4 linked regions of the Homo sapiens genome follow. The protein of the gene in region 1 purifies or fractionates together with the protein of each later gene. This does not show direct contact. Each region holds a gene or a part of one and is shown on either strand. Other genes may lie near its edges.

Region 1 (3,500 bases):
GGAAACAAAGGGAATGCCTGTTAATAGGGGTATTGTTATGTAAATTATGGCCGAGGCATTTTATGGAATGTTGTGAAGTGATTAAATGGTAGGAGTTAAATCTACTGGTGATTAGAAAGGATTTCCAAGTACATTCTGAAAGGATTTCTATCATGTGTCTTTTTTTTTTTTTTTTTCCTGAGACAGGATCTTGCTCTGTTACCCAGATTGGAGTGTACTGGTGCTGTCTTGGCTCACTGCAACTTCCTCCTCTTAGGTTTAAGCTATCCTCCCGCCTCAGCCTCCAGAGTAGCTGGGGCTACAGGTGTGCACCACCACACCTGGCTAATTTTTTGTATATTTGGTAGAGACGGGGTTTCACCTTATTGCCCAGGCCATCATGTATCTTAAGAAAAAAAAATACAAAGTACAGAGAAACATTTGTAATGATAACTCATTTTTTATAAAACCAGTTGAAAAACACCATGAGTTTTGTATATTTTTACCTGGTTGTCACCGTTGGAAAGAGGAAATAAGCAGAAAAGGAAAGAGACAGAATATCCATAGTAACATATTTATATAAAACTACATGTTTGTACATGTCTGTGTATATGATGGATTATGGGAAACAATGGGCACTAAGATGATTTACTTTCTTCCTTACACTTTACATTATATGTTTTTATTTTTACAGTGGACATGAAGTGTTTCTGTAATTAGGAAAAACAGGCTGGGCATGGTGGCTCACGCCTGTAATCCCAGCACTTTGGGAGGCTGAGGCAGGTAGATCGCTTGAGCCCGGTGTTGGAGACCATCCTGGGCAACATGGCAAGACCCCCCTCTACCAGTAAAAACTAAAAATTAAAAAAATTATTTGGGCACGATGGCATGCACCTGTAGTCCCAGCTACTCAAGAGGCTGAGGTGGGAGGATCACTTGATCCCGGGGCATTCAAGGTTTCAGTGAACTGCGAATGTGCCACTGCACTCCAGCCTGGGCGTCAGAGCGACACCCTGTCTCAAAAGTAAGAAAAAAAAAAAGAAAAGAAAAATGTACCAAAAAATGATAGGGACTACTAGATAGGATTACAAATTTGGCATGTTATTTTTGGTATGGATAGTCAGTGCTATCGACACGCTTTCTGCCTTAGAGTGTAGAGCACATTGCACAAGTGTGGGATCTGTCACCTGACTTAATCATATGACAGAATCATAAGAAAAGTCCCTATTTGGGTTTTGGCATATAAACTGGATTACAAGATTAACTTGCCTTAAGAAAACTTTAAACAAGAACTTCTTTAAAGAAGCAAAATAAAAAGTACTTATAATTGTTTAATACTTGATTTCTGTCCTTTTAAAAGTATCTCCGTAGAATACATCATTCAAAGCCTAGACAGAAAATAGCAGATGCTTTAGAGTTGGATTTGTTGCATACTTAAAGTAGCTGTATTTTTTTCTCACATTGGTATTACTTCCCCTTTTCATTACCAGTTTTATTAATTGCATATATGTGCTTTAATGTAAGCTGTCCAAAGTTTTTTTTACAAGAGTTGGGATATATGTAAATAAAAATAATTTTAGAGTAGTATTAATATAACAAAGAGATGAAGGAAACCAGACTGTGTGAGTCAAATCCTGGCTCTGCTTCCTAGTGGTGTGACTTTGGAGGAGTTACTTGTGTCTTTTTGCATTGCATTTTTCTCAACTTTAAAATAAGGATAATAAGAGTATTTAACTTCATTGGATGTTGTGAATAATAGAAGCGATTGGAATAATAACTAGCACATAAGGACCGTATATATATTTGCCAGCTGGGTGCAGTGGCTCACACCTGTAATCCCAGCACTTTGGGAGGCCGATGCAGGCGGATTGCTTGAGCCCAGGAATTGAAGGGCAACATGGCAAAACCATGTCTGTACAAAAAAAAAAAAAAAAAAAATTAGCCAGGCGTGGTGGCACACACATCTAGTTCCCGCTATTCGGGAGGCTGAGGTGGGAGGATTGCTTGAGCCTGGGAGGCAGAGGTTGCAGTGAGCTGAGATCGTGCCACTGCAGACCCTGGGTGACAGAGCCAGACCCTGTCTCAGAAAAATATATATGTAATAATAATATGTGCTATTATTTGCTCAGTCAATTAGGTGCAATATATAATAGTTTTACTTGGCTCAGTTGTTTTAACATTCATTTACTCATCCAACAATATTTTTAATTCAGTTGAATGGGTAATACATGTACAAATATGGTAAAATTTATATATTCATACAAGTGTGTTTTCTCTCCCCTCATCCTTATTCTTTTCTTCCCCCATATATTTATCCACAAATGGTAGCACCTCTTCGTATTATTCTGGACCTTACATTTTTCGCTTGAGTATTACGTTGGAGATCTTTTCACATTGATACAGTTAAAACTGCCTCATTCTTTTTAATGATAGTTTAGTATTCAATTGTATTAATATACCCTCATCATCATATGTAACATTTATTGAGAGCTTACTCCTGATCCAAATGCTTTCTTAATACTTTAGTTTTATTAACTCATGGAAGCCTCATAACAACCTATGAGATAGGCACTATTTTTCTATATTTAACAAATGAGGAAAACTAGGCACGGGATGATTAAATGTCCAACAGTCACACAGTTTATAAGTGGTAGGGCTCAGGATTAGAGCCCAGGGAGTCACTTTCCAGAGATTGCTGCCATAATACCGCTAAACATGTAGCCTGTCATAGTATTACAAGGTATTTAACCAGCCTCCATATTAATGGACATTCCAATCTTTTGCTTAAGAAACAGTGCTATAGTTAATATTTTGTTAATAGAACATTTTGTACATCTACAATAAATTCCTAGAAATGGACTAGCCATGTCAAAGGTAAGTACAATTTGAATTTTGGTGGGCACTGCCAAATTGCTCTCCAATTTAGGGATGTTCAGAAGTTCACCTTTGTCCTTAGTAATTTGCCAAAATCTGCCATTTAGCTTGGGTCTTTGGAAGGTGTGCTTTTAACATTTCTAGCATCCCTGAATTGTGTGTGATCTACCATCATGTAATAGCTTAAGTTACTATCATATGGAATTAATGTAACAATGTCAGTATGAGAGGTGTGACCTTTGGACTTACTACTTTCAAATAACAGTAAGTATTTTAGATATAACTTGAAATACTCCTTAATGTGATTTATACATTGAAATTCTATCAATCGAAGTTTGAATAGATATTGTTGAAAAAGTAAAATGCTGTAATTGTTAATAATTGTGAAGTTGCTGATTTTATGTACCAAAGCAATTATGTAAGAGTGTTCAAATAGTTAAATAGTGAATCAGATTGCATTTGAACATTAAGAGTGTGGTAGCTAGCTAAATAGAGGAATAGCTGGGTCCTTTCTTGTGAAAAGTGAGTTTTTGATAATCCGTGAGTCCTAGTCGTAGGTAATGCAAAATGAGGTAGCGAGGAGCTTTATTTAGATGAGTTATAAAATCCACAAATTATTTTGAATATAACACACTTGGTTTCAGTGC
Region 2 (3,500 bases), on another chromosome or scaffold:
CCAGCAGCTAGCAGGCAATGGAGCAATGCCTTCAACATTCTGCAGGAAAACACATTCCAAGCTTTCCTGCAGATTCTCTATTCAGCCGAATTATAAATCCAAGGATGAGGGTAGAATAAAGATATCTACAGGCTGCAAGGTCTCAAAAACACATACCTCCCATGCACCCTTTCTCAGGAAGCTACTGGAAGATGTGTTCCACCAAAATAAGGGAGTAATCAAAAAAGATAAAAACGCGATATAGGAGCACCAGTAGAGGACAGACGTGAAAGGGGTACCCAGGATGGTGATGAAGAAAGATCCCAGGATGACAGCAGTGCACACCAGACAAACCAGCCCAGATTTGAGCAGGTCAGAAGGCTCCAGGGAGATTTCTTTGGGTAGTTTAAATTTTGATAGACTGTCTAATGCTTTTGAACCTCTTAAAAGGAGATTTAAATAGTTGGTGAAGCATTTGGGGGTTGGATTAGTTATAAGAATTATACATAGAAAATTAAACAAAAGGACAAGACATTAACTCCAGGTAAAACAAAGTTGTGAAGGAAGAAAAAAAAATCAGAGTTTACTATTTGGCTTATCTCTGAATAATAAATATTCAGTCAAAATGATTTAAATACTGGCCGGGTGCAGTGGCTCATTCCTGTAATCTCAGCACTTTGGGAGGCCAAAGCGGGCAGATCACATGAGGTCAGGAGTTCGAGATCAGCCTGGCCAATGTGGTGAAACCCTGTCTCTACTAAAATACAAAATTTAGCCGGGCATGGTGGCGGGCACCTGTAACCCCAGCTACTTGCGAGGCTGAGGCAGGAGAATCGCTTGAACCTGGAAGGCTGAGGTTGTAGTAACCTGAGATCGTGCCACTGCACTTCAGCCTGGGTGACAGAGCAAGACTCCCTCTCAAAAAAAAAAAAAAAAAAGATTGAAATACGGATATAACCAACATTATGGTTTAGCTCCTGGAATAATGAGGAGAATGGGAAGTACGTGTTTGTGGTGGAGTCCTAGTAGGAGAGAGAACTAGAAATTCTCATCTTCTTTGGTAGATAGATGATAAATAATGCCCCAAAATGAAAAAAAAAATGGAAACTAGCAATACAAGCATGTTATTTAAGGACATAGAATTAAGTACCAAAATAATCAACTAAGGTAGATAGATGTTCTCATCTCTGGGGAAGGGTAGTACAGGGAGGTGGGTTGCAAGGAGTGCAATTTTTTCTTAACAAAATTTGTAAAACTGTTGGACTGATTTAACTGTGTGTCTATATAACTTTGGTTAAAAAAATAAATATTAAAAACCAAATTGATTAAAGACTTAAGAGCATGAAGTTTGGAAACAGATCTGGGTTTGTTTGAGTCTTTCTTGCCACTTATTAATGGTGTGACCTTGAGCAGTTTATTTAACTACACCTATTTTCTCATCTGAAACATGAGGACATTACTTACACATTTGTTGTAAGGATTAAATTATGTAATTTTTTTTTTTTTTTTTTGAGACGGAGTCTCACTCTGTCGCCCAGGCTGGAGTGCAGAGGCACAATCTCGTCTCACTGCAACCTCCACCTCCTGGGTTCAAGCAATTCTCCTGCCTCAGCCCCCTGAGTAGCTGGGACTACAGGCACGTGCCACCACGCCTGGCTAATTTTTATATTTTTTTAGTAGAGACGGGGTTTCGCCATGTTGGCCAGGCTGGTCTCAAACTTCTGACCTCAGGTGATCCACCCACCTTGGCCTCCCAAAGTCCTGGGTTACAGGTGTGAGCCACCACGCCCAGCCAATGTAATTTATTTATTTATTTATTTATTTTTTTGACACGGAGTTTCACTCTTGTTGCCCAGGCTGGAGTGCAATGTTGCGATCTCGGCTCATCGCAACCTCTGCCTCCCGGGTTCAAGCAATTCTCCTGCCTCAGCCTCCCGAGTAGCTGGGATTACAGGCATGCGCCACCATGCCCGGCTAATTTTGTATTTTTAATAGAGACAGGGTTTATCCATGTTGGTCAGGCTGGTCTTGAACTCCCGACCTCAGGTGATCCTCCCACCTTGGCCTCCCAAAGTTCTGGGATTACAGGCATGAGCCACCACGCCCAGCCTCAATGTAATATTTTTAAGTGCACGTAGTATAGTATGTAGCACATTCAAGCTATTATTTTGGGAGATTACTTCCCTAGTTTAGAGCAAGCAATTAAAATCACAGGAATAGAAAAAGGTAAACTAGCCAGGATCTCCCATTTGTCTAGAGTAGGTGGGATGATTTCTGATTTACAGGGTGATCCCAGAATGGACTATCAGGGTGTTTTGAGCCAGGTTGATTGAGCACTGGGCTCCAACTTATTGTTAATGAGAAATGGCCCAACTTGGACCATGACTTTCCCATTTGCAGGTCTTAGAATAATTTTTTTTTTAATTGAGACAGGGGTTCGCTGTGTTGCCCAGGCTGGCCTCGAGCTCCTGGGTTCAAGTGATCCTCTGCCTCAACTTCCTGAGTAGCTGGGATTACAGGTGCTTGCCACCATCCCCAGCACAGTCTTGGAAGAATTTTAAGAAGCTTACTTCATTGAAAAAAGAGGAAAGTGAAAATGTGCTAAGTATATGAAAGGGAAAGCTTGGATTAAAGATGAGAAACATTTTTAGACTATAACATGTTAAAGAGAGATACTATAGGCTTTATGTTTTAGTCAACTTCTTTTACCTATAGGGACCAATAGATAAAGTCTTAACCTGGAGACAGGGGTTGGATGAAATGGTTTCTAAGAGGTTTATCCAGGTTTTGTGGAAACAATAGGAACAAGACAGATAAAATAAGGGGTCTTATTAAAAAATAATGCTCTAAATATTTGAGATACTAGAACACTATTTTGTTTTCTGTCTCTTTTGATTGGGAGTTTTTATGTGGAAGGAAGCTACTAACTATCCCACCCTATGCAGAGACCCCAGAATCCAACAATAGCGTGTATACTTCCTTCATGAAGTCTCATCGCTGCTATGACCTGATTCCCACAAGCTCCAAATTGGTTGTATTTGATACGTCCCTGCAGGTGGGTGAAATCCTCTTTTCCCTTCCCCCTTTGGAGCCTGTGGTTTAATACCTCTCATCCTATCTCATCCTAAGGGTAATATCCTTATCCTTCTGTGAAGTTAGTCTCATGTTTTACCCAACATGCCCAAACACTGTTCTTTTTTTACAGTCCTGCCCCTGTGGATTTGCCTTTATGATTATTACTGTCTTGGCTACAGGTGAAGAAAGCTTTTTTTGCTTTGGTGACTAACGGTGTACGAGCTGCCCCTTTATGGGATAGTAAGAAGCAAAGTTTTGTGGGTAAGCAAAAGTTTCTGGAACACAATATTATTGGCATCTTGTGCTGGGCAGGGAGACAAGCTTCAGGCAGTGCTGAGGGCTCTGTCTTGTCCTCTAGGCATGCTGACCATCACTGATTTCATCAATATCCTGCACCGCTACTATAAATCAGCCTTGGTAAGGAACCTTAACCCAATGACCAAAAT
Region 3 (3,500 bases), on another chromosome or scaffold:
GTTGTGATGTTGACTTTGATTTTGCTGGACCTGCAATCCATGGTTCAGCTGTCTTTGGTTATGAGGGCTGGCTTGCTGGCTACCAGATGACCTTTGACAGTGCCAAATCAAAGCTGACAAGGAATAACTTTGCAGTGGGCTACAGGACTGGGGACTTCCAGCTACACACTAATGTGTAAGTATTTCTTTCATAGGATACTGTGATGTGGGCCCTCAGAGGATGATTTTGATGTCTGTCATCTTATTGATCTGGGTGCACCCTAAAGGATTTCTCATAACATTTAAAAACAAAATCATTCTTGGTCATTTCTAGGGTGCCCCTTGAAAGTTTATAGTAGAAGACTGTTAGTCTGACCTTTGGTGCTGAGAGAGTAAATGTTCATTTTATATGGGGTTTAATGTGCTTTGTATTTTTACAAGAGGCATTATATATTGGCAGACTGCTACCAGTACATTCATTTTACTTAATTATTTTGATGTGTGAGATGCTGACTTGATAGGATTGCCTAAAATGTATGGTGTTTTGTGGTTGGGTTTTTTTTTCTTTTTCTTTTTTCTTTCTTTTTTTGTTTTGGTTCAGACAGAGTCTTGCTCTTTTGCGATCTCGGCTCACTCCAACATCCGCCTCCCGGGTTCAAACAATTCTCCTGCCTCAACCTCCCAAGTAGCTGGGACTACAGGCGTGTGCCACCATGCCTGGCTAATTTTTGTATTTTTGGTAGAGACGGGGTTTCACCATGCTGGCAAGGCTGGTCTGGAACTCCTGACCTCGTGATCTGCCAAAGTGCTGGGATTACAGGCGTGAGCCACTGTGCCCGGCTATTGTTGTTTTTTTGTTTGTTTGTTTTTAATTATTTTTGTAGAGATGGGGTCTTGCTATGTTGCCCAGGCTTGTCTCAAACTCCTGGCCTCAAGCGATCCTCCCGCCTCAGCCTTCCAAAGTGTTGGGATTATAGGCGTGAGCCACTGCATCCAGCCTGGTGTTTTTACCTAGCCCAAACTAGATAGATACATAGAAAGTACTTAAAATGTTTTTCTTTCCATTGTAAAAATTCATTGGTAAATAACAGAAGCACAAAGAAGAAAACCTACGTTTCTTACAATCATGCCAGCTAGGTATATAATCTTTGTTAATGTTGTGGTTCACCTTTTTATATGTGTGTGTATATATACTTATATATAAAATACGTAACCAAAAGGCTGTTTGAGAACCTCTTGCATGTTTAATACAGTGTGATAATTCCACTGAATGGATATTCTGTGGTTCATTTTACCAATCCCTGTATGGGTATGGGTTGGGGAAAAAAACCTGTTAAAACTTGCAAGTTTTCAGTGGAACACTAAAGACCCACTTGAGCTGTGGTTTTTTATTTAAATGTAATGCTACAAATCAGCCTGTGCCTTAGACATTATTACATTGTCTATTCTAGATCTACTAATTTAAAATATCTTATAGCAATGATGGGACAGAATTTGGAGGATCAATTTATCAGAAAGTTTGTGAAGATCTTGACACTTCAGTAAACCTTGCTTGGACATCAGGTACCAACTGCACTCGTTTTGGCATTGCAGCTAAATATCAGTTGGATCCCACTGCTTCCATTTCTGTGAGTACTTTTGTGGACTTAGAATGGGGGTTTTGGTTGTGGGAATGAGTCTTTGGGTATACTGAATTATGTTGAAAATTTGAACTGATTTCACACAGTCCCCAGTTTACAGATAGATTAGTTTTAGATTTTGAAATGCGCTTTTTTGATGGATACAGTGTTAGACGTTTTATTTCCAGGCCAGGCTGGTGGAGTTTGTTTAACCTCAAAAGCTGCCGAGTTAATGTTGATGATAACCTTGAGCCATAGGCCTGTCTAAGTCCAGGTATAGCTGGTGTTTGGTCCCTGAGTGGTTCTTACTGTGTCAGAAATAATAGTGCTTTTTTAAGGCTCTCTGTTGTCGAGGCTGGACTGCAGTGGCACAATCACGACTCCCGGCACCTTGACATCCTGGGTTCAACCTCAGCCTCCTACTATTCCCAACTAATTTTTTGATGTTTTTTTGTAGAGATGGGATCTCCATATGTTGCCCATCCTAGGCTCAAGCTATCATCCTGTCTCAGCCTCCCAAAGGAGGCTGTTGGGATTATAGGCATGAGCCACTGCACCTGGCTAGTATTTTAATCATCACTTTGTCTTTTTTTTTTTTTTTTCTTTTTTGAGATGGAGTCTCTGTCGCCCGGGCTGGGGTGCAGTAGTGCGATCTTGGCTCACTGCAACCTCCGCCTCCTGGGTTCAAGCAGCTCTTCTGCCTCAGCCTCCTGAGTAGCTGAGATTACAGGTGCCCGCCACCACACCTGGCTAATTTTTTTGTATTTTTTAGTAAAGATGGGATTTGTTGGCCAGACTGGTCTCAAACTCCTGACCCCAAGTGATCCACCCGCCTCAGCCTCCCAAAGTGCTGGGATTACAGGCATGAGACACCACAGCTGGCCGCCTTCTCCATTTCTAATTGCACTACAGCAATAAAAACCTCAAGATTCATACAGTACACTATTCTGTTACTTACATTGATGTTCTTGGATGTCTGTGGCATTTTAACAGATTTAATGTAAGTGGAAGAAGCTTCTCTCAGCTACTAGGAGTTCATAGTTAAAATGGGAAGGCAGCTTGGGACCCCTGTGTCATTTAATGACTCCTGGGAATTAGTTTGGAAATGTACCTAGCCTTTCCCACTTCAGTAATGTTAGCTGCCACTCCAATTCAGCAGTACCCAGAAGCATTGCTTAATGCTCCTTGTGATATTAGGAAGTATATATTTGGTTCTCCTTCCCTCTCCTGGCATAGAACTCCTAAAAAATCCTTGGAATCCCGAAAGTATTAAGTATCTTTTTGTATGCTAATGAGTTTTGACTGGTGGCTGGCCACCTTTAGGTAGCTTCGGGCTGGAGGCTAGTCAGTGGAGAGACCAAGGTGTGATTAGAGGGGGTGGGGAGAGGGGCTGTAGGTTTAATTGTTCACCAATGGCTAGTGGTTTAATCAGTCATGCCTGTATAATGAAGCCTCATGAAAACCCACAAGGACAGAGGTCAGTGAGCTAGGTAGCTGAGGTTACTGGAAGGTGGCATGTCTGGAGAGGGCATTGAAGCTGTGTCCCTTCCTATGTTTTGCACTGTACATCTCTTCATCTGTATCCTTTGTAATATCCTTTATTAAAACTGGTAAATGTAAATAAAGTGTTTCTTGAGTTCTGTGACCTGCTCTAGGAGATTAATTGAACCCAAGAAGGGGCTTGTGGGAACCTCTGTTTAGAGGTGCCAGGTCAGAAGCAGAGTTAAAACAACCTGGGGCTTGCAGTTGGCATCTGAAGTGGGAGGAGGGCAGTCTTGTGGGACTAAGCCCTTAACCTGTGGCATCTGATGTCTCCAGGTAGAATTAGAGGACATTTAGCCAGTGTCTGCTGCAGAAATTATTGCTTGCTTGGTGTGTGAGGAAAGCCCTCACACATGTGGT
Region 4 (3,500 bases), on another chromosome or scaffold:
CAGAAAAGTGTGTGGAAAATTTGAGGACAGAAGATAGAAAGTATGCCCTGGGAGAACAGGAAAGAGCATTTCCTAGGAGAACATGTGGGATTGCCAAGCAGAACTGAGTGTTCCATTGGAAATTACTGATAAAAAAATAAGGTGAAGTCAATCAGTTCAATTGTATTTCGTCTACAGTTTTGTCCTTCTGGGGTTTCAGGCTCAGAGAAGGCACATGTTTGGGTCAACCAGAGTGAGTTTTGCTTAGCAAGTATAGTGGGTAGGGGCCTGGGAGACAAGATTTTGCTGAGGATATTTGCAGAGGAATAACTGTGATGCTGAGCCTTGAAATCTAAGCTGGGAGGATGCGGGCTTCAATGTACCTTTGGCTGTGAGGAAGGGCACTTAAACTAGTGTTCCGGTTGCACTTGATGGAACACAAAGTGCTTCAGAACAGCTGAAAAGGAAACCTATTATGTAGAGTTAGTTAACCCATGATACCAGTTTTGTTTGTCATCGTAAAAATTCAAGTTGCTCTTGGCGTAGCATGTATTATATGTCCTGTAATGATCCTTACAAATCCCTCTGGAATTTGAAGAACCCTGCTAAGGCCTTTGTCTGATATTTCTCCTGGCTGATAGTTTCATGTTTTTTAGTAAAGTATGTCAGAATAATGAGGTTCTCACTGAATTACCTTCACTCAGCTCTTGGTTGTCACAGATTTACTGTCATGAAGCATGCAAATGAATTAGGAAATGGGTAAAGAAATATTAAAATGCATTATAAGCACTGATACTTATTAATGCTAGGTTAAAATCGTACAGAACTATTCAGATTAATGGAATAGAGCGGAACGTTCAGAAACAGTCCCATTATATGTAAGGATATAGTATGTGATAAGGGTGACATTTCAGTATAGGGAAAGAGGCAGTACAGTAAATGATTCTGTAAGTAGCATTGAAGCAATTGGCTTACATCTTGGGAAAAATATAATTACATGTTTACCTTATATAATGTACAAAAATACGTCACAGAAGGAACTTTATAGTAAAAAAAAAATCTTTTTTATAAGGTTTAGACAAAATATGTAGAAATTTATGTCACTGCAGAGGAATTTTCTAACTATGAATCCAAGCCATAAAGAAAATCAGTAGTTTTGGTTAAATTAAACAGTTAAAATTTTATGTGCACAAAACACTGTAAATAACACTAAAAGTTAAAATACAAACAATAAAAGGTATTTCCAACAATATCACTAAAATATAGAGAATTCTTACAAATTATTTTTATAGACAGGGACTCCAGGAGGAAAGAAAAGATAGATGTATAAATGACCAAAAATTCGTGAAGAAATGATCTCTCATATTAAAGACATAATAATTAAAACATGAGATACCTTTTTTTTTTTAACCTAGCAGATTGGCAAAAATTTTATTTTCTTATGACAACTCATTTCGGGTGGAGGGGGCATTCTTATATATAATTACATATATATAATTATAATTTATATAATTATCTAAAATGTTATATACTTAACATTTTATATAAATTGATAGAACCATTTTGAAAAGCAGTTTAGAAGTATTCAATAAAAGCCTTAAAATTTTAAAGTCTACATTGACCCAGTTCCACTTCTACAAATATATTCTAAATGCGTAATCATGGATAAGTACAAATATTTATTACAAGAATGTTCATTAAAACATTATAAAAGAAAAAAATTTTAATAGCATAAATATCTCAAAACTGGCAATTGATAAAATAATTGTGATTACATGCAGTGTAATATGTTGTCATGAAACATGCAATAAAATAATGATGTGGAAAGACGATTATGATGTAATGTTAAATGAAAAAGACATTACGGAATAGAATGGATTGTGTATTTATTAAAAGCAGAATAATGTATATATGTAAGGGGATGAGAAGGATATAGATCAAATATATTAACTATCTTTCATAATGGGATTATGGGTGATTTTTCTTTGTGCTATTCTGTATCTACTACAGTGCATATATGTTTCCTTTTTTATAAGGAAAATGTTATTTTGTTATAAAGGAAACTTTGTGAGAAGCGTGTAATTGAAAGAACTGTGTATTGTCTTTTTATAGTCCCAGTCGGTACCTCCTTTTCCACCTGGTGAAGTACATCTTTGCTGTGGCTCACAGATTGTTCCTCCCATTCCCCTTGCCGCTTTTTGCCTATCGGTAAGTAGAGTGCTCCTTTTGTGTGACTTCTGAAAAAGCCAGCTCCACACACTTGTTCCTAATGTTCTCCCTTAGGGTTATAGGGTGTGTGAAGGGCTGGTCTCCAGATCTCCTAGTGTTATGACATTAGCATAGAGAAGAAGCAGAAATAGATTAGTGTTGGTTAAAAAAAAATATATTGGAACATTAAATCTTCCCAATTCCCAAAAGTGAATCTTCCCACTTCCCAAAAGTGAAGATGCAGTTCTTCACTTTCTCCAATTTAAAACCATCGAGTTTAATTTTGGAGAAATATCTTGCTAGGCACATATGTAAGGGGCAGTCAGGTTCCCCTGTGTTTCATGTCGCTCATTATTAAATCAACCTGATCATGCTATTGGGGAAAGGAGTCAGGCTAATTCAGACTTGGATTTGTGGTTGCCTTCTCTTCTTTCCCTGCTTCTTAGTTTACTTCTTCTCTTTGTGGGTTAAATATCTTTGACTTGGCTGGGAGTGGTGGCTCATGCCTATAATCCCAGTACTTTGGGAGGCCAAGGAGGGCAGATTGCTTGAGCCCAGGAGTTTGAGACCAGCCTGGGCAATATAGCGAAGCCCCATCTCTACAAAACATACCAAATTAGCTGGATGTGGTGGCATCTGCCTGTAGTCCCACCTACTGGGGTGGAGGTGGGGTGATGCAAGAGAATTGCTTGAGCTTGGGAGTTCAAGGCTTCCAGTGAGCTGAGATTGTGCCACTGCACTCCAGCCTAGGTGACTGCTACTGCGCACAGTGGTGCACACCTATAGTCCCAGCTACTTGGGAGGCTGAGGTGGGAGGATCACTTGAGTTCAGGAGTTTGAATCCAGCCTGGACAACATAGTGAGACCCTGTCTCTGGAACAAAAAAAAAAAAAAGAAAGAAAAGAAAAACCTACTGCCCTGAGGTAACTGTTGATGGGAGCTCCTTTCTCGTCCTAGGTTTTATATTGTCCTGATTTGAACCAAATAAAATAAAATCTTGAACTTACCATGTCACACCCTAGTGGTCTGGTTAAGGAGACTGTCACATCCATTGTGCCACAAACTGATCTTCATTTGGGTTTTCATCCATTCATTCAACAAATGTTTATTGAATGCCTACTATGTCTTAGATAATGTACTAGGTACTCAGAAGGTTACAACAAACACTCAAAAATCTTATGGTCAGAATGTTACAACAAAAACTCAAAAATCTTATGGTCTAACAGGGGTACCAGAAAAATAGACCACTAGAATGCAGGGTGATAACGATATTTATTGAGTGTTACACCTTTCAGACTATTCACTTTGTCTCC

The links. The genes of interacting proteins can lie anywhere in the genome.
Region 2: the proteins of ATP6V1A (region 1) and PRKAG1 fractionate together in Homo sapiens (co-fractionation; one large-scale study listed by BioGRID). This does not show direct contact.
Region 3: the proteins of ATP6V1A (region 1) and VDAC2 fractionate together in Homo sapiens (co-fractionation; 2 studies listed by BioGRID). This does not show direct contact.
Region 4: the proteins of ATP6V1A (region 1) and NDUFA9 fractionate together in Homo sapiens (co-fractionation; one large-scale study listed by BioGRID). This does not show direct contact.

The regions. Positions count from the first base shown.
Region 1 is NC_000003.12:113,753,535-113,757,034, forward strand, and holds part of ATP6V1A (V-type proton ATPase catalytic subunit A), read left to right. Parts: intron 1-3,500. UniProt on the Homo sapiens protein: Catalytic subunit of the V1 complex of vacuolar(H+)-ATPase (V-ATPase), a multisubunit enzyme composed of a peripheral complex (V1) that hydrolyzes ATP and a membrane integral complex (V0) that translocates protons.
Region 2 is NC_000012.12:49,005,277-49,008,776, reverse strand, and holds part of PRKAG1 (5'-AMP-activated protein kinase subunit gamma-1), read left to right. Parts: intron 1-177; exon of another isoform or gene 178-351; intron 352-2,924; coding exon 2,925-3,034; intron 3,035-3,184; exon of another isoform or gene 3,185-3,233; coding exon 3,234-3,315; intron 3,316-3,385; coding exon of another isoform or gene 3,386-3,412; coding exon 3,413-3,471; intron 3,472-3,500. UniProt on the Homo sapiens protein: AMP/ATP-binding subunit of AMP-activated protein kinase (AMPK), an energy sensor protein kinase that plays a key role in regulating cellular energy metabolism.
Region 3 is NC_000010.11:75,220,796-75,224,295, forward strand, and holds part of VDAC2 (non-selective voltage-gated ion channel VDAC2), read left to right. Parts: coding exon 1-175; intron 176-1,456; coding exon 1,457-1,607; intron 1,608-3,500. UniProt on the Homo sapiens protein: Non-selective voltage-gated ion channel that mediates the transport of anions and cations through the mitochondrion outer membrane and plasma membrane.
Region 4 is NC_000012.12:4,680,114-4,683,613, forward strand, and holds part of NDUFA9 (NADH dehydrogenase [ubiquinone] 1 alpha subcomplex subunit 9, mitochondrial precursor), read left to right. Parts: intron 1-2,091; coding exon 2,092-2,187; intron 2,188-3,500. UniProt on the Homo sapiens protein: Accessory subunit of the mitochondrial membrane respiratory chain NADH dehydrogenase (Complex I), that is believed not to be involved in catalysis. Required for proper complex I assembly.